3 linked regions of the Homo sapiens genome follow. The protein of the gene in region 3 interacts with the protein of the main gene of each other region in a biochemical or structural test. Each region holds a gene or a part of one and is shown on either strand. Other genes may lie near its edges.

Region 1 (7,114 bases), on a different chromosome or scaffold from region 3:
TATTCACAGAGGAGAAGCCAGCAGCCCAGAGGGAGGACCTGCTCAGTCACCCACCCAAACCCAGTGCTCATTCCTGGAAGTGAGTTGTCCTAGCAGGGTCCCTCCAAGGGACGTCCCCCACTCCCACTTACAAGCCACAGGCCGTCCTGGCTGCCTGCTGCCCAGCACTTCACTGCCGTTGGCACCCACACACCAGCAGGAGCGGCCGTCGTTCTGGCACTGGACAGTCCTGAGGAGGAGACACAGACCAGGTGACCCTGGGATGGGCCCCCAAAGCCACATGCCGGCTCCCACTCAGGCTACTTTTCTTCTTCATTTCCATTCTTGCAAGTTTTGGTTCGTTTAAATTAGGGAGAGAGTGGAGTGGAGAAGGGTGGCTGACCTGGGAAAGGAAAGGCCCCACTTTTCCTGCCTGGCTAGCACCTGCTCTGCCTCCTGCCCCAGCCATTCATTCACCACCTGTCCAGCCTGCCAGCCCCAAAACAAGTGACCCACCCTGGAGTGCAGGGCTTCAGCCACATCCACCAAGTGTCCTCAGGCATTATGAGGCTGCAGAGGGTAAAGGCAGTGCCCACATTGTATGGATAGGGAGTGGGGGCTTGGGGGTGGGATGTTAGTGGGATCAGGGGCCAGCAGGGTATATTGGGAAGCACATGGGTGGGGTCAGGCCAGGCCATAGAGTTGACTCCCCAGAAATGATGACTGAACTGAGACCTGCAGGATGGTCAGAGGTATAAGAAGGTAAAAGATATTCCAGGTAAAGGGAACAGCATATGCAAAGCCTCCTGAAGAGAGGCCAGGTTTGAAACTGCAAGAGGCCAGAACAAGAGAGTTGGGAATGGGAATATAAATAAGGCTGGTGAAAGTGAGACTTCCTCCTTAACTCCTTCCTTGCTGTTCCAGAATTCCCAGTGATCTAAGCAGGGACTGCTCTAGCAGCATCTCTGCACACTCGTGGGAGGTTAGGCACATTAAGAGTGTACATAAGATAGCAGCAGGGAGGGAGGTTTCACAGACATTTCCCAGAACGCAGTTATATAAATGGAGTTCCCCTGATTCAACATGACTGGAATAGCACAAGGAAATTTCAATGCATGCACATTGCAAAGGATTCCTGTCTATTCTGCAGGGAAGAATTGTCTAGATTATTACCACACTCTCCACAGAGAGGGTCTCAGGCCCCAAGTCTGCATTAGGGCAGCTGGAGAAACCCCTTTCAGAGAGCAGCTCAATGTGGAGACAGCGACCCAGAAGCCCAGAGGCAGCCTAGAGAGCTAGTCCGGGCAGGGTCGGTGGCAGCTAAGGACTAGGAAGTCAAGGCAGCCTCTGCTTCCACCACCCCAGCTTCTCAAGAGGATACTTGGAGGAGGGAGAGGTCCCAAAGCACAGATCATTTGACACTCTCCTCAACCTGCCCCACTCCCCACACGTGCCGTTTATTCAAGCCATCACAGAAAAAGTGATGGCAAGAAGAGAAGGGAGGGCAGTGGGAGGATGAAGCATGGATTGGGGTTCACTTGGTCAGATTGTCCAGTGTTGAACAGCTTGGGGAACTGAAAGGCAGGCACCTCCAAATGACAGTGGAACTGAAAGGCAGGCACCTCCAAATGACAGTGGCCAAGCCTCACATGCACAAAGGAGTTGCAGGGCAGAGCTCAGGAAGAGGGGGGAAGGCACAAGATGCTTTTTATGGCATCTTGGACCTTGAGAGTTCGCTGCTGACATAAGCCTTACTGGAAGCTGCCATCCTCTGCACACTGGGGCACGTAGTCTGCTTGCTTCAGAAAGGCCGTTTCCCTCTGCAGCTCACAGGGACGAAGGGGCTGGGCATCCACCTGGTACTCTAGGAAAAGAAAAGTGGTTCATCAAAGAAGAGTGTGGACTGGGCTGCCAGGACAGAGACGGGCTCTCATAAGCACAGATGCTTTTCCAGGGTCATCATCATTACCTATGACAGCCTATTTTAAAATTTGGCAGCTAAGCACACTTTCTTACAAGTATGACATTAGCTCATTTAATGTGCAACATTCTCCTAAGAGGTGACAGGCAATATATCCTTGTCACTCATGAGGCACCAAGTCTCAGGCAGCGAAAGTCGTCTGCCCAAAGTCACGTAACTGGCAAGTGAAGGATCCCAAAATCAACGCTGGGACTACACGTTCCCCGCCCGCCCCCACCCTGCCGCAATTCCCATGAGGCTATTTGGAGTAAGTTAGAGAACCGTAAGGAAGTTCTTCTTGAATCTATCAAGCCATGCCCTGCAGATGTAACATGTTCCAGATAAACATTGAAATACCAATTAATTAATAATGTACATGACTTATTTTTCCATTGAGAACTCTTGTAACACATAGGGTCCTACCCAGAAATCACAACCGCATCATGAGGTGTGTGTTATTTGTTTACTTTTTAAATGAAAAAAAAAAAAAAAAAACAGAAGCTTGGCACTTTGCCCGAAGTCATATGGGTAAGTGGCTGAGCCAAAGACAGAACTTAGGGCTATTTCACTTCATAGGTAGATTTCTTTTTCTACTGCTTCTAAAATACCTGTTATGGATGACACAGACTTTGGAATAGCTAAGGGGATAAAAACCCAAGGTCAATGCCAAAAGTTTGCCAAAATGGTGGGGTGAGGAGGACCTAGAATTGAATTAGGAAGATCAACCACATTTCCCATTTCTGCTCCATCAATCACTAGCTCTGTGACCTCAAGTAATTCAGTTCGGCTCTCTAAATCTGCCTCTTCATCTGAAAAAAAAAAAGCAAATCACTGACATGTGGGAATTTGTGAAGATTAAATTAGATCGCACCTGTTCGAAGGCCCAGGGCAGAGCCTGGCTGACACTGGAGCTCCCTCCCCACCGCCTGGCTCCATGGCCTCAGAACTTACCGAAGATATTGGCCGACACCCAGCAGATGGAGGCCAGCAGGGTGAAGATCTCCAGGACCAGGGCCATTTTCCTGGCCCTTCCTGGGAGGAAGGAGGAGAAACCACTGCTTGCCCTAGGTCCCCTGGCCAGGGAGCTTTTATAGAGCTGCCGTTGGCACTTTCCTTCCCACCCCCAGGTCCTCAGTGAGGCAGTGCCCCATCCTGTTTTCTCTGCTGGTCAAAAGGAGCTCCCTCCACCTGTGTCTACTCCTCCTGAGGGCACTCGTGTGGCCAGTGGAGCATGAGGATCTTGTCTAAACTGTGGGGGAACAGAACGGGGTGGGGTGACTTCAAAATCCTTTTTTATGGGTAAAGACCAAAGCTCTGTATCTTTGGAGGGAACAGGCTCAAGCCCACAGTGAGGGAAAAGCAATCCTTTGTTCTTTCCTTCCCCACCCTACCCTTTCTCCTTCTCCTTCCTCCTTCCTTCTTTCCTTTCTTCCTTTCTTTCTTCTTTCCTTCCTTTCTCCCTTCTATCCTTCTTTCCTTTCATTCTTCCTTCTTTCTTTCCTTCCTTCCCTCTTTCTTTTCTTTCTTCCTTCTTTCCTTCCTTCCTTCTTTTCTTTCTTCTATTCTTTCTCTAACAACCTCTTAGAGCTCCACAGTAGCAGGCACCTAATCTAGACAATGAGGATATGGCAGAGAACAAAACAGGCAAAATCGTGCCCTCATTAATATAGACTGTGAAAACTTTGGTGAGGGAAGCAAAATACACACACACTCATATTCATATTTCTATTACTTTCCTCTCTTTCCTAGGACCTCAGACTTTGTCAACCAAAAGATAGCAGGAACTGTGTATTCCACAGAAAGCCTGTATGTCCATTTGGTTTCTCCTGGCAAACATGGCTTCCTTCCTTCAGTCCTGTTCCTGTGAGACCTGGAAAAACTCACCTCATCTCCCTGAGCCCCAGCCTCCTTCTCTGGAAAGCAAAGTTAAAAGGAGAATAATAATATGTCCCTATTTGTTAAGGTAGTTGTAAGAGAATAGACATTGAAGAGCACATGCTTATTAGACACTAGCAGTTATTATTATTATTATTGATTTTCTTATTTTGCAAAAGCATCATGCCAGGGAATGGCAAGTATTCAGAAGACCAATCCAGCCAGGTAAGGAGCTAGTGACAGATAGGGTCAGGAACTGGCAGGTAATGAGGGCAGGTTGCTGAGCCTGGCACCTGAGGAGAGATGGAGGGACCTGTGAGAATCTGGAGGATATGGTCCCGGGTAGAGTGAAGGGCAGGAGGACAAGCTGGAAAGTGGAAGAGACTCCAAACCCTGGGGAAAATAAAGGGGCCGATATAGCTGCCGTGCCGTAGACTGTACTACCTTCCACAAATAGGGTTGCTATGAATATTAAATGTGTTAAAATATGCAAAGTGCTTAAAACAGTATTTGACACATAATAAGTATCCAGTGTTAGCTACTGTACTAGTCTGCTATGGGTGTCATCACAAACTATCACAGACTGGGTGGCTTAAGTAACAGAAATTTATTTTCTCATAGTTCTGAAGGCTGGAAATCCAAGATCAAAGTGTCAGCACTGTTGGTTTCTTTGGAGACTCCTCTCCTGGGCTTGCAGATGGCCATCTCCTCCCTGTATCCTCACTTGGTCTTCCCTGTGTGTGTTTGTGTCTTAATATTTATTTCTTTTAAGTACACCAGTCATATTGGATTAGAGCCCATCCTTGTGACCTCATTGTGCACTTAATTACCTCTTTAAAGACCCTACCTTCAAATGCGGTCACATTCTGAGGTCCTGGTTTTAGGACTTCAGCATATGGATTTGGGGGGAGAACACAATTCAGTCCATAACAGCTACTGTCATCATTGTTGGGTTCCTGATATAAACTAGAGAAAGTAAAACACAACAGTCATTTGAAGTGTCAGGGTATGGGATTAAAAACAGGGGAGAACCCGTGCTCTGCCCGTCCTTCTTGGGGACCACACATGCCTGGAACTCCCACATCTCTCTCTAGCTCAGTCTCCAGCCAGACTTTTTTGAGCTCAGATCCACTCTGCCTGGACACCCTACAGGTATTTCAAATTCAACATATCCCAACCTGAACTCCTCAACCTTTCTCCTGACATCACCCCATTGGCTGTCTCTGTGATAGTAAATCCGAGCCCCATCCTAGGCTTCTCCCCTCAAGTCTTACCAGCCTCCAGGTCCTACCAGGCTGCTGCTCATTTCTACTTCCTTGGTCCTCCCCTCCTCTGCATCCTCACTCTTCCTGCCTCCGTCACATCCCTACAGCTCAGAACGAGCCAGCCAGAACAGCCTGCTGTACTGCTCCTCACCAGGGCTTCCCCACCAGCTGCAGGAACAGTCCTCTAAAATATGGCCATCCATGTCACTTTGTAGATTCTACAAAAAGAGTGTTTGGATCCTGGTGAATCAAAACACTGTTTCCATTCTGTGATATTAAACAGCACATCACAAGGCTGTTTTCACGGGTGGGGATGGAGACTCAGCCAACAGATGCTCAGGAGGTGCCGTGGCAGGAAGATCAATTCACCCTGGGGAGTGGGAGGACAACTTGGATTAAGACCTAGATGTTAGGTAAAGGTGAGCTGGGGAGTGTATTGGCATTTACTGGAAAAGGCAATACAAGAGGAAGAACTCACCTGCCTGACTCCCTGCTACCTCATTACATAGGCCAAGTTCACCCCAGGCTATGGAGAGCTGGCAGCATCCTTCTCTCTACAGCAATATAATAAGCACAGCATTGTGCAGCCCCTGGTCATTTCTCCATTTCTACATGTTCTAAAGCAGAAAAGTCTTAGAAAAAATTGAATGTGGTTAAAGATTTACCATAAACCTCACTCACCACTCTTCCCATTGCCCTAAAATGCATGCATAAAGCTTGCACAGGTTGGCCTGTGTGCTGAATCATTCTTGCTGGCCTGGCCCCTGAGAAGCAACCCACAGACCCATGCCAGAAGTGTCTCTGCTTCACTGGGTTTGGTGCTTTAGGAACTCTGGGCTCAGGGTTCATGAAGCAGGCCAAGATATCACTGGAATGAGGAGTACTATGAGAGAGGAATGGCAGGTCTGTGAGCTGACTCCACGTCAGACCCCACCTGGAGAAGCAGCAAGGTGTTAGGAGCCTGTGGGGGAGCACCCAGTAGTCCGAAATGCAGAGGCCGCCTTCAAAATCCATGCAAAGAGCTTCCCTCCATACGCAATAGCAGAGGTGCTTCTCTCCACTCAAGCAACAAAGCAGAAAGCTTCAAGAGAATCGAGGCAATGTGTCACTTCCACCACCATGAAACCCTCTTTCTCATAATGACTCAGCTACTGGTCCCTACTTTTACCTCTTCTCCACTGAGCTCTGAGAACAAACAGGCTTCCACAGCGACTCCACATGGCAATGTCCTAATCTTTCTTCACCAACTTGCTCCTTGCTCAGGCCTCCATCACTCTGGCAGGCTCTTCATCGCTGGCCCTGCCACCTCTCCCACTCTTCTTGGCCCAAAATACAACTGCACAACCTTCTCTTTCATCTCCTTCATTTTTTAATACTAAGGTGCTTTATATAATAGGTGCTTACTGAAAATTTAGGGGGAGATGGACAGTAATAGCAATATAGAGGAGGAAATGGCTTCAAATGGATCATCAGACACCACTGTTTCTGACATCCATCCATCAGCTGTCATGCACCACAGGAAATTGCTTCCCAGTCATCTCTCCTTTAGTCCAGCCTGCCACCATATTGCTGGATCCCTGCTACCACTTATGGACAGCTTCTCCCCATCCTCCAAATACCTAGGGACACAAAGCCACAACCCGTCTTCTCCTAGGTTCCTAGGGCAATAATAAACATTTCTGGTTCTTGATTTCTCATCCCAGAAAGACAGAGTGAAAAATACACTTTTCCCTGTACCTCTTACTAAGTATAGCTAAAACCATGAATATTATACATAAAACAAACATAAGAAGGCACTGAAAGTTAGAGAGAAAAAGACTGGCTATCAACCTCAGGATCAGAGGGACAAGATATATGGTAGGAGTTTCCTGGATTTTATTCGGCCTCCTATGTCTCAGATGAGATGTTGGAGGAGCTGGATACTCAGAAATGCCAGGGAGCACAGACAAAACAAGCCCCCAGAAAAGCCTCTTGAGCCAAAGTTCCAGGAAAGGGCGGCAGACTGGTAAGACAGAAAACTTTTAGATAACAACCT
Region 2 (4,692 bases), on a different chromosome or scaffold from region 3:
TCACTCTCTGCCATTGTTTAGCAGTCTGACCTTAGACAGCTCACTTCACCACAACTGCAGGCCTCCGTTCCCTTATATGTATAAATGAGGAGGTTGTCTAGGGTCCTTTCCAGCTGCAAACCTCTGTGTTTTGGGGAGTTCTGTTAGCAACATTCTTGGACTTGCTCTCTACGAGAAAAGCTAGAAGTCGATTATTAAAATGGAGTCCACAGGAAGCCTGCAGGGCTTTAAGACAGCCTTCTAAAGAGTTTAGAAACACTCACCAGCCTGCAGATGACTTACTCCCACTACTTATTACAAAGTATCATGGCAAGTAAGAAAGAAATGGTCAGCCACTGGGAGAGCAGGCTGAGGTTGCAAGGAAGTGGCAGGTGCTATCGTTGGGATCTTGGGGGAGCATTGTAGAAAGGTCAGCTTTGGAACCAGGCACTGAAAAACGGGTGAAATTTCAACAGGAGAGGCAGTGCACATGGGTTGTGATTTGAGCAGCAGTGAGTAGTGAATGGGGTTGGAGCAAGAGGCCTGTGAGCCCAGTCATCACATGGAAAAGGGAGGTGAGGGCCAGAGTGCAGAGAACCCCTCTCACTTTCCTGTGGGTCTCTCCTCTTCTTTTTTTTTTTTTTTTTTTTTGAATTGGAGTCTTGCTCTGTCGCCCAGGCTGGAGTGCAGTGGCGTGATGTTGGCTCACTGTAAGCTCCGCCTCCCGGGTTCACACCATTCTCCTGCCTCAGCCTCCCGAGTAGCTGGGACTACAGGCTGCCACCGTGCCCTGCTAATTTTTGTATTTTTTTTTAGACGGGGTTTCACCTTGTTAGCCAGGATGGTCTCGATCTCCTGACCTCGTGATCCACCCACCTCGGCCTCCCAAAGTGCTGGGATTACAGGCATAAGCCACCGTACCCGGCCTTTCTCCTCTTCTTTAAACTGCATTTAGGTTGTCCTCATCTATAAGATGAAGGAATAAGATTAGATGGCCTCTTTATATGGCTTATCTACTTCTAATAAACTTTGGTTCCATATTCCAGCCACCACCCATAAAGACTCTTACTTTTTCCTCCTCAATCCATCAGCATCAGCCAGCATTCTCCCTCTCAGTTCATCCTGGTCATTACCTCACTAATCTGTACCTTGACTCTTATTCTACCTGGGACCTCCCCTCACTAACCATACTTGATTTATTTCCTTAAGAGCGGATATCCTGTGTATTCTTAGCTTACAGTGGCTGAGCTTTTGGGAGGTTTAACAAATTGTTTTTCAATAGACTCTCAGTCCTAAATGATTTTATTGCAGCTGTATTATTCTTTTTGAGGGGAGTAGAGAATGTAATCCTAGTTGTATGCCATATTTTTTGTATTGTTCAAGTTGCATTTTGTTGGGCCTGTAATATTGAAGAAAATGTCACTTGTATGCAGAATAGGAGGGAGATTCCTTATGCTGTAGAGGAACCATTTTCCTAGGATAGTACAATTCCTTAGAGTCATCTCTAAGGGTGAGCAGCAAAGCTAGAATCCCTCTCTTGGCTTTGACCTTGAAGGAGTCAGTTTTCCCAAAGACTAGTTCCCATGGAAAGAAGATGGTCTCCTTATCACAGCAGCAAGAGGAGGCAGTATGAGCAGAGTGCCTCACTGTTGTTGACCTCTAGGGACAAGTGAGCCGGCAGTATTTCAGACAAGCTGGGAAAGAGGCTGTCTGTGAGTCCTGGGAGCGAGTGAGCACTGGCAGGCTCAGACATAGGTGCTGGTTAGCAGGACTGCTTTTCTGTTTCTTGTGTCGGCTTTGTTTATTTCCTCTCTATTTTCCCCCTGGACTTAGTAAAGTCTTTCCGAAAATACCAAAGGTGAACCAGGGGAAGAGTTTTTATTTTCCATGTTTGGACAGAACTTTAAAGAGGAAATGATGTACCCCCCTGGGAGCCAGTGAGGTGGCAGCGATGGTGATTAAGGAGTGAATATCTCAAGGAGGTGGACGAATTCGGGGATCACTAGCTCAGCTGCCCCTCTCCACCTGGAGCATCTCCTTCCAGTGCTACCCTCAGAACATCTGGGCTTTGCTCTAGTGAGGGAGAGACTAGCAATGAAGGTGTCTTGAGATCAGCACTGTAATTCCACCAGGACGCCACCGGAGTCCGGTGTTAAGCTTCTACTATGGCAACAGAATGAGAGCGTGGATGGGTTGAAATGCCATTTCAACAAGGAAATAGTAGAATTAGAAGAAGCATAAGCACTAAAAGGAACATTTTGTAGCAGAAATGTTAAAAATCTAAAGGAGGCAAGTGAATCAACAATGACTCTTCTATTCTGGGCAAGTCCAGCCCATTTATGTAAGGTGGTTATTCTGCATCTCTGTCTTCTGCAAGTAGTGCTGTGGCAGAGCTGCGTTTTGTGGAGAGCGTCCCCGGGGATGGAGCAGATCAGTTGGTGATGCGTATGTATCAGAAAGCTCGGCAGAGCACCCTGGAACGTAGGCCCTCTCGCGGAGTGGGTAGTGGCCCTACATGTTCATTTCCAAGGGCAGGAGAATAGACCGTTCCAGCTGCGGCCTGGCCAGGGATGACCCCACATCTGACACTGCAATATGGGGGCAACTGAACCAGTCCTCAGCCTCAGTGTGTTCCAGGGGCTGCAGCTGGGGAGCAGTCGAACTCTTTCTTGAGACAATTACAAGGCCACCGCTGCTGCTGCTGAAGGGAAGTTACTCCATGTTTACAATTCTCAGGTTTGAAGTTTTCATGCTTTGCCAAGGTAGAGTGAACCATGCGTCTTTGCAGGCTCAAGGGATGTTTAAAGAAGCGGTAGGACATCGTCCACCCACAAGCAGAGACCGCAGGATAAAGCAGACATCCAATGTAAATACAACCCGTGCAAAAAGCAGAGTCGGCAGACCTGGAGTGCATTCGCAGTATCTCCCGGGGGTGGGGGAAAGAAATCACCTCTTCAGAATGTCCAGAGGGGAGTTGCCTTGCTTACCTGGGGGGCGGTACCCTCTCTCGTGCCCTCACAGGGCTACTCAGCCTCAGGTAGCTGGTGCCAGAATAACACAGACTCAGCTGCCAGAGCCTGCTCTTAACACCTGTGTTTCCTTTTCAGATCTTACAGGTGAACAAGGTGATGTCCATCTTGTTTTATGTGATATTTCTCGCTTATCTCCGTGGCATCCAAGGTAACAACATGGATCAAAGGAGTTTGCCAGAAGACTCGCTCAATTCCCTCATTATTAAGCTGATCCAGGCAGATATTTTGAAAAACAAGCTCTCCAAGCAGATGGTGGACGTTAAGGAAAATTACCAGAGCACCCTGCCCAAAGCTGAGGCTCCCCGAGAGCCGGAGCGGGGAGGGCCCGCCAAGTCAGCATTCCAGCCGGTGATTGCAATGGACACCGAACTGCTGCGACAACAGAGACGCTACAACTCACCGCGGGTCCTGCTGAGCGACAGCACCCCCTTGGAGCCCCCGCCCTTGTATCTCATGGAGGATTACGTGGGCAGCCCCGTGGTGGCGAACAGAACATCACGGCGGAAACGGTACGCGGAGCATAAGAGTCACCGAGGGGAGTACTCGGTATGTGACAGTGAGAGTCTGTGGGTGACCGACAAGTCATCGGCCATCGACATTCGGGGACACCAGGTCACGGTGCTGGGGGAGATCAAAACGGGCAACTCTCCCGTCAAACAATATTTTTATGAAACGCGATGTAAGGAAGCCAGGCCGGTCAAAAACGGTTGCAGGGGTATTGATGATAAACACTGGAACTCTCAGTGCAAAACATCCCAAACCTACGTCCGAGCACTGACTTCAGAGAACAATAAACTCGTGGGCTGGCGGTGGATACGGATAGACACGTCCTGTGTGTGTGCCTTGTCGAGAAAAATCGGAAGAACATGAATTGGCATCTCTCCCCATATATAAATTATTACTTTAAATTATATGATATGCATGTAGCATATAAATGTTTATATTGTTTTTATATATTATAAGTTGACCTTTATTTATTAAACTTCAGCAACCCTACAGTATATAAGCTTTTTTCTCAATAAAATCAGTGTGCTTGCCTTCCCTCAGGCCTCTCCCATCTGTTAAAACTTGTTTTGTGATCCGGCTCTCAGGAGTCACTCTGTAAAATCTGTGTACACCAGTATTTTGCATTCAGTATTGTCAAGGCCATGACTGTTGTTTTAGTAAACTTGTTAAAATCAGATGATGTCAGAGTTGTGTATAAACACAGTTATATCCCTCTTCTGGTACATTTAATGTTGGGTTAATGAATTAAAAGAACTGTTATGGCCTGCACTTACTTAAAATGATACCCTGTAGCTCTGGCCAGCAAGTTCTATATCAAATTCTCTGCTGTTAGTTTGGCAAATTAGAATTATGATTTGCTCCAGTGTTATGGTCCTGGAACAATAACAACGACCCTGGCAATTTTAGTTTTGGAAGTTTCTTTGCAGCACATTTGTTGTTTTGGGGTTTGGGGTTGTTTAAGGGTTGAATTTTTTTGTTTTGGCTTTGGTTTTTGTTTTGCTTTTTGCAAGTGGTTTCATCTTTTTAGGCACATAGGAATTTTTTAAAACTATTTGTAACAAAATAATTGCATGACTACCCAGAAGCAAACTGAAATGGATCATGAATCATCTATACATAGAGGATAAATTTATTTATGGCCGACTCTCAGCCTGTGACCACCCCTCCTCATCTG
Region 3 (8,776 bases):
GTCTTCCTGGTTAGTTTGAATTGATGTGTCATTTGTAATATATTGATTCCAAAGAAAGAGGTTGAAAAAACTGGCTCAGGGGTTCTAAGGCCAAATCTGTGGAAGAGTAGACCTAAAACCACTCATTCTTTGAAGTCCACATGTAAAGAAATTTTCTTCTATTTCTTTCATTTAGCTGTTTGCAATAATTTTTTTTTAGTTTTTCTCTCCCAGTCTTTTTTTCAGTGACCTTATTTAAAATAGCTATTTTGGCTGGGCACGGTGGCTCATGCCTGTAATCTTATCAATGTGGGAGGCCAAGGCAGGTGGATCACTTGAGGTCAGAAGTTCAAGACTAGCCTGGCCAACATGGTGAAACCCTGTCTCTACTAAAAATACAAAAGTTAGCCAGACGCGGTGGCATGCGCCTGTAATTCCAGTTATTCTGGAGGCTGAGGCATGACGATCACTTGAACCCAGGAGGCAGAGGTTGCAGCGAGCCGAGATCGCACCGTTGTACTCCAGCCTGGGTGACAGAGTGAGACTCTATCTCAAAAAAAAAAAAAAAAAAAAAAAAAAAAAAGTTTTTGCGTTTGTTAGTCATCCGTGGTCTCTTCTTCAGAGATCTCATCCTTTCTGTATCTGGTTAAAAAAAAAAAAAGTGGAGCCTTTGTTTAATATCATTTACCTTAAAAATGGTTAAGTAGTACTTCTTAACCAAGAATTGTTATGTAGTAGCCTGTTCTTCTGTTTATTTATTTGGTTTTAGAAGTCATAAAAAATCCTGAACTGTATTGAAGAGATCTAGTATTTTTGGACCGTTTATAAAACAGTGTGAAATAAAAGCATCAGCATGACAGAACAACTTTTTATCAGAGATATTGTACTTTGTACAACTGGGGAAGGAAGGTACATGTAGAATCATTTTTCCTACATAACATGACAGGATTCGAGTCCCAAGAAAAAGCAAAAGTTCATGGTTCTCTTATTTCTTTTAACTTGGTCCTGTTTCATTTCAAGCCACATTAATTCACATCATCAATGTATGTGAATGCCCTCCAAATGCCTAGATCTGTGCTAGATGCTGGGGTGCCAAGATACAAAGAAAAGATCATTCAGACTGGAGAATGAAAAGCCTCAGAAGGTTATAGCAAACTACTAGACCTGTGTCTGTGGCTTATGAGGATATATTAGCATTTAACCTGTCTTCTCAAGAAAGCACGGTAAAGCTAAAGCATAATAGTGCGTTTATATTACGGTTTAAGGAGACCGGTGTCCTGATGACCACTCAGGCTTCTCTGTCCATGAAATCCAGCAGGTTTTTCTCTTTGCCCAAGCCTCCCTTTTTCTCTCTAAGGTTTTTTTTCTCATATCATTTCTTTTCAATCTATTAATTTAAAATATATTTAAAGTGCATTGGGTTTATTACACACAGCATATATTTTTTCACATAGAAGTCCTAATGATTAAGTGCTTTATTTTAGGAGTTGAGGCAGGAGAGGAAAACATTTTCCTTTCTAGTTACAGTATTACAAGTTAGCTATAATAGACTCATGGGAAAGTGGAAATAAAAAATACTGGCTATTACTAAAAAAACAAACAAAAGGGATGACAAGAAAACGAAGGAGAAAGATAAATAGTTATAACTTTCCAAAAATTATGCTCCCTAATTTTGTTCTAAGGGTTTGACTTACCATGGTAAGGTGGTATAGCACTGCCTTATCTGGACTGCCTGCATTTGAACCCTGGCCATGTCACTGTGTGATCCTGGGTGAGTTACTTAAGTTTTCTGTGTCTCAGTTCCTAATCTGTAAAGTGAAGATAAGAGCACTTAATTTGTAGGGTGGTTGTGAGAATTAAATGAGTGTGTGTTAAATTATATATACATAATATATACGTATATGTATATTATTGTATAAATATATATTTGTATTACATAATATATGCATATGTAATATTGTATTTGTAATGAGTTATAGTATGTATTACAACATATCACATTGTGTTGTATAATCTATACATATGTAATAACTCATTAGAAGAATGTCTGGCACATAATTAGCACTCAGCAATTAGCTATCATTTATAAATGCTCTCTTCTTAGACTCAATAATCTTCCTTTTGCCTGGAACTCAAAACTGTTTTCATGCCACATTTTTAACTGATTCTTTCCTTCAGCTGCTTGGAGTATTCATGACATGTATAACCTTTGTACATGCGTGAAATTGAGCAGGCCTAGAAGACTTTATTGTTGGTTACTAAGTTGGATTGCTTCAAAACATTTCTGCTGTAAGCACCCCTTTGAGGGTAGGCATGAAACTGTCTTAAAGGAACAGATGAAATGCCTTGGCCAGAGTTGTGGTGGTGGCTGACATAATTTCCTTACTTCTCATTCCTGTGTACAGACCATTTGACAATTTCCTTAAAACTTTTTAAACTTATGATGAATAAAGCCAGGAACTCTTGCTTATTTTCTGTCCTCCCTCTGCTCCTGTCACTAACTACTTCTGTAAACATAACTTCCCAACTTCTACTCCAACTTTAAAGCATCTGGTTCCTTAAATAAACAGGCCCTGTAGAGAGGCCGTGTTGTATGGGGTGTCAGCTCTGGGAAGAATGCGTGTGTTTGTTTGCTGGCTCTGGCAGGGTTGAGTCCAAGCTGACAGGACTGAGTGTGCCTGTCAGAGGCTTCAGGGAGCTGCCGCTGAAGACCTCGGCCTGTTGTTGTGAATCGCCAGACCTTTGTAACACCCGGAAGTCTGAAGGTCAGTCCTTTAATGCCCCGGAACTTCCTAACTGCCTCATTTCTTCCAATACTTGGCCTCTCTTCATCCTACCTTCCCTAGCACCCCCAGCCGTCTAGCTTATTTAATAGTCTCTTGAGTTCTGTTTCTTCCATTCAGCTTTGGATCAAGGAGTAGGAACTCTGTAGGATCTCCTTCTTGGTCCTGGTTGAGCAGAGTGAGCGAAACCTTCATGAAGAGTCTTCTCTCATGCAATGTATAGTCAGACCTTTAGCCCCTAGAGGGATGTTAAAATGACTTATGCATTGGATATTTCAGTAAGAAGTATCAGCAGATTTGATGAAGTGTAATTTATCTGGGGAAAGGTTAGTCTTCATCTGAAGTTTGGTTGGGATGAGAGTAGAAAGCTAGCCAGGTATGACAGATGGCTCCAAGGGAATGCAGTGTTAACAATTAGGTAAGTTCTCTGCTGACTCAAATGTTTGGCTCTGTGCACAGTGATTTTTAATTAGAAATCTGAGTCTCATGTCTGCTTGTGGAAATAATTGGAAGAAGGCTTATGTTCTGTTCAATTTCTAATGGCTATTTTCTTTTTGTGATTATTAACAACAATAATAGGCTTTCTATCCTGCTGTTTTGATCAGATCTTTCATGTCAGGGTCACAGATACTATTAGCAGTTTCTTCTGCACTCTGCCAGTTTCCAGTCAACTCTCGTCAACAGGCATTGGGTTCTCAGTGGGTGACTGCAGAGTCTGCGTTCCCCAACTTTGTCCCAGTTGGCCTGTTACCCTTGTGTGACCATCACATGCTGGGCAGTGCTTAGCACCAAGTTGTAATGGTCAGGACGGGGGAGTAACGTTTGTTCTTCTCCCTCCTTCCTACCTAATCCTACCCCTCAATTTTTTTTACAGAAAGTGAACTATGTTTTGAGGCTGCAGAAATGAGGCTCAGATATTTTATATAATTAGGAGCTAATATTAAGGCAGACAAAGCCATCACATTTGACATGTAATTTAAAATACAGCTTTTCTAGAAACAACAAAACTGTGGCAATGGCTCTGACAATATTATGAACTAGATACTGCATTTGTAGATTTCTACAAGTTTCAGTTCCCTTTCTCTCCTTTTGTCATCAGTGTTTTTATTGCATCTTTTACTTCTATTTTTAAAAACTTGGTGAAAACTTGTTCTTCCCACTATGTGGTCTCAGTGATTTGTATGCAGGTGGATTTGAGGATTAATGGGGCTTGAAGAACAAGCTGATCAATTTCAGTCAGTTCTAGGCAGCTTTTTTGTTCTTGTTTCAATGGTGACTGCAGTCAAAGTTGGGTTAGTAATATGTTGCTTTGAGATAGTTTGGTTGAATGAATGTTCATGACAGATTCCTCATACCTATGAAAATTTTTAGGTGAAAGATGGAGGCTGTTTTTCCTTCTCTATCCCCAATCTCAATCTCAGGAAACCACAGTAAAAACAAAATCCTTCCACTCAGAACCTGTCGTGTTTTGCCGAGGAAGTTTTCTGTGAATGTAACTTATTTTCTGTTTTGTGTTTTAGTCTCTGGCCCTCGATTCCTCATCTACAGCACAAGAAGTTTTGGACTAGCTTTAAAATTTCTTTCAAAAATTCTATGATTCATATGGGAGAGGCCAGAGGTTGTGATCACAAATGTTTTCCTGGCTGATTCCAAATTTAGAAGCAAACTGTGGCTGTTTGACTTCCCAGTCAAACTTGAACATAGCATGGATTTCACATTTAGGGGTGTTTTACTACCACCTCCAGAACTTGCTTCAGTGAAATATGCATGTTCTTAAAGATAGCAGGAGTACTTTTTTTCATGTAGTTATGAAAGACATTTTTCTCTTTTATTTTGGGGGTAATATTTTACCGTTTGTTCCTTGTTGGCTGAAAAATCTAATGCTAATAAAAGCTACTAGCTTGAATAGTCCAAAAGCAAACCCAACAGATAGCAGTAAATTCATTTTTCTTTTTCCCTTTCCTATAGTACTCTGCCAAAACTGGGGCTTTTTTTCTTCATCCTGGCTGCCTGTGTGTTTGAAAATAGATGGTCAGCTTACCATAAATATATTCACATGTAGAAACTTATATGTGATTAATTGGCTTGATTTATTTTTATCAGAAGAAAACGTATGTATGTTCCTTCTCTGGCTTATGAATACTATCCGTCTTATGTTTGCTTTGGATAAGCATTTTAGTCTTCCTGTATGTCCTAAAACGCGCGCGCGCACACACACACACACACACACACACACATACACACACACACACACACTTTCTAATATTGTACTGAAGCCAGTTTGCAAGTCTGGTTCCACAGTACAATTGCTCTGAAGGACCAGGAGAAATTGAACTGGGAAGGAAAATTTGTATTAACTTCAATAATTCCCAGACAAGTTAGTTCAAATCATTTTTATCTAGTATTTGCTATTTGTCACAAAGGATTCAAAACATAAATATGTTGTATACAAAATCTCAAAGAGATGTCTCAATACCCAGATTTGGGTCCTGGCTCTGCTGCTTCATAGCTGTGTGATTATGGAAAATCACTTAACTTCAGTGGTCTTTACAGTTGTTTTTTAAACTAGAGCAGCAGCTCTTAGGATTGTTTGGAGGGTCAAATGAGAAGTTTTATCAACGTGTTTTGTTAAAGGTAAAGTACTATATAGATGTCATTCATTTAGACACTTACTGAGCTGCCTGCCATGTACTGAGTGGAGTCCAGACCTGTGCATAAACAAAGCAAAGCACTGGGGCTATCTTAAGGATTTAGGTGTTCAGAGATGTTTCACTGGGAGTTTGGAAGAAGGCTTGACCACTGCAGTGCAGTGTTCTGGGAAAGCCCTCTGGCTGAAGAGAGAATCAAAGTGGAGGTGATTTTTAGGGAGATCTGTAACGGCACGAAGGAAGTAGGAAAATCCAAGATATGTTCAAGGGATGGTCAACAGAAACTTTATTTTAGGGTGAGGTAGTTGATGGGGAGTATGACTAAGGTTTCCAGGAAAACATATAGGGAAGTTAAAAAAAAGATAGCTCTTTTGTGGGGGATGGAAAGAGAGGAGGGGCGTGGGTAGTGAGTTTGGCAAAAGGACTTACTTGTGAAAGAGAGAGTTTTAACAGATAGTGCTAGACATGAGGCTAGAGCTGGAGGAACCAGAGGTAGAAATGGGGAGCCAAGAAGAGTTCCCCTTTCAGAGGCCGGCCATTGCTTTGGTCTTGGATGTGAAGGTCCCAGAGGAAAGCAGAACAGAAGGTGAGGCAGACCATCCTTTATACTTGAAGTGCTAACGTTTCCAAAAAGCACTCCTAAACTTCTGGACCTGGTTGAAGAAGAATGTGAGCCAAGGCATGAGGAAGCCAGGAGCTGTAAGACAGTGATGCCTATGAACAGATTTTTCTGAACATTTGTGAACAAGGATAAGGTTGAACTCTTGCTGATAATGTGCTTAATGGTTTGAATCATGGATTATTGGGCCGATTAGCTGGTCAGAGCCCTTTTGCTGATGCGGCTGGCTGACTTGCTTACTGGCCAAGAGCTGGGAGTAGAACACAGATGTCCCAACATGGTGCTGCATTTGGAAGTGTTTCATAGGAGTGTTGAAATCAATGCATTTGCTTTAGGGATAAGGCAAAGTTATGAGATCCCAGTTATAAGTAATATAGTTGTGAATTCTACTCTTTTTCTCAAGGTCATAGTACCCTCAACAGAGCTCAACTAGCCTTTCTAGGCCTCAGTTTCCCGTCACATAAAATGGAGGATTATCATGAAGTTTTGAAGGGAAGATATATGTGAAAATATTTTGAAACCTTGAAGTACCGTATGAGTATGATTTGTATAATTCCTTAATAAACCTGCTGATGTGTCACAGCCCCCACAGGGCCTGCTTGTCAGCCAGGTGATCCTGATAGATACAGCCCTTGAGCCAAACCCTGAGGAGCATGTGTATTAAAGCAGACGGATGAGGCATAAATGCGTTTGGTTTATCACTTGGCAGAGTTGGATGACAGGCTTGGGTGGGGGTGGCAAGAATTAAAGTGAGTCAAGATTGGCAGAAATGTAAGACGTGTATGTAGTGGTTTTCTTCTTTTTTTAAGCCTTTGTGATTATGTCAAACTTTTGTTAATATAATTGATGATGGTTTGAGGCAGTAGTTTGGGGGAACAGGATCTCAGGTATTAGATCTGGATTCAAACTTCAGTGGTGACCATGGACAAATTAACCTCTCTGAACCTTAGATTTTTCATCTATGAAATGGGAGTACTAATACTACCTCTTAGGGTCATTGTGAAGATAGTACAGGATTTAGTGTATATTCTTTTGTTGAGGATTTCTTGTAATGATTTTCATTACAAAGCTTCTGACACATTACCAGTTAGATGCTTAAATATTTGTACATGTGCTTAATTTTTTTCATATCTCTAATATTTCTAGAGAATTATTATAGGTACTCACAAGAACTGCATCTGGATTAAGACATATTAGCCCTGGCTAAGCAGGGTGACTCACACCTATAATCCCAAGATTTTTGGAGTCTGAGGCAAGAGAATCACTTGAGCCCATGAGTTTGAAACCAGCCTGGGCAACATAGTGAGACCCCATCTGTATAAAAAAATTTTTTTAATTAGCCTGGTATGGTAGCATATGCCGGTAGCCCTAGCCACACAAGAGTCTGAGGTGAGGGGATCACTTGAGCCCAGGAGTTTTGAGGCTGTCGTGAGCTATGATTGCGCCGCTGCATTCCAGTCTGGGCAACAGAGCGAGATACTGTCTTCCAAAAATACAAAAAAATTTATTAGGGGTAGGTAGTGGTGCACATCTAGAGTTCCAGCTATTTGGAAGGCTGAGGCAGGAGGATAGCTTGAGCCCAGGAGTTCAAAGCTATAGGACACTGTGATCGCATCTGTGAATAACCACTGTACGCCAGCCTGGGCAACATAGTGAGGTCCCATATCTAAAAGGAAAAAAAAATGTACTACTTGTATCACTGGACTCAGGATGAAAAAAGAGGAGGGTGGGAGATAGGTTTAGGCAGAGATCATCTATTCAAAATGCCTTTCTTTCTTTTTCTTTTTTTTTTGAGACAGGGTCTCGCTCTGTTGCCCAGGCTGGAGTGCAGTGGCACTATCTCGGCTCACTGCAACCTCCGCCTCTGGGGCTCAAGCAGTTCTCTGCCTCAGCCCCCCAAGTAGCTGGGATTACAGGTGCCCGCCACCACACCCGGCTAATTTTTGTATTTTTAGTAGAGATGGGGTTTCACCATCTTGGCCAGGCTGGTCTTAAACTCCTGACCTCGTGATCCACCCACCTCGGCCCCAAAGTGTTGGGATTGCAGGCGTGAGCCACCGCGCCCAGCCCAAAATGCCTTTCTTGAAGCTATGGGAGATAGAGAAGAAAATAATCAGATTAATAATCAGAAAACAGTAATCAGATACCTGGTCATCTGGTTATAATAGCTTCAAGCATATATGGTTAAATAGTTTTTGTTTTGTTTTAAAACAAAATTTTAAATTTTAAACAAAATTTAAAAATTTAAGAGACATGGTCTTTACTGTGTCACCCAGACTGGAGTGCAGGGGTGTAATCATGGTTTGTTGTAACCTTGAATTCCTGGGCTCAAGTGATCCTCCTGCCTCAGCCTCTGCAGTAGCTAGGACTACAGGCACATATCCCTGTGCCTGGCTAGTAAATAGGTTGAAATAACTTAAAGTTATTTATTTTTATTTATTTATTTTTTGAGACTGAGTCTCACTGTTGTCCTGGCTGGATGGAGTACAGTGGCATGATTTCAGCTCACTGCAACCTCTGCCTCCTGGGTTCAAGTGATCCTCCTGCCTCAGCCTCCAAAGTAGCTGGGACTGCAGATGTGCACCACCACACCTGGCTAATTTTTGTATTTTTAGTAGAGATGGGGTTTCACCATGTTGGCCAGGCTGGTCTTGAACTCCTGACCTCAGGTGATCTGCCTGCCTCAGCCTCCCAAAGTGCTGGGATTACAGGCATGAGCCACTGCACCTGACCAAATTATTTTTTAA

The links. The genes of interacting proteins can lie anywhere in the genome.
Region 1: the proteins of SORT1 (region 3) and TG interact in a biophysical measurement, tested with the Homo sapiens proteins (one study listed by IntAct).
Region 2: the proteins of SORT1 (region 3) and NTF3 form a complex in vitro, tested with the Homo sapiens proteins (one study listed by BioGRID).

Annotation. Positions count from the first base shown.
Region 1 is NC_000008.11:132,862,844-132,869,957, reverse strand, and holds the start of TG (thyroglobulin precursor), read right to left. Parts: upstream 3,001-7,114; 5' UTR 2,958-3,000; coding exon 2,891-2,957; intron 1,844-2,890; coding exon 1,735-1,843; intron 230-1,734; coding exon 132-229; intron 1-131. UniProt on the Homo sapiens protein: Acts as a substrate for the production of iodinated thyroid hormones thyroxine (T4) and triiodothyronine (T3).
Region 2 is NC_000012.12:5,491,108-5,495,799, forward strand, and holds the end of NTF3 (neurotrophin-3 isoform 1 preproprotein), read left to right. Parts: intron 1-3,024; exon of another isoform or gene 3,025-3,086; coding exon 3,087-3,881; 3' UTR 3,882-4,192; downstream 4,193-4,692. UniProt on the Homo sapiens protein: Seems to promote the survival of visceral and proprioceptive sensory neurons.
Region 3 is NC_000001.11:109,386,995-109,395,770, reverse strand, and holds part of SORT1 (sortilin isoform 1 preproprotein), read left to right. Parts: intron 1-2,635; exon of another isoform or gene 2,636-2,744; intron 2,745-8,776.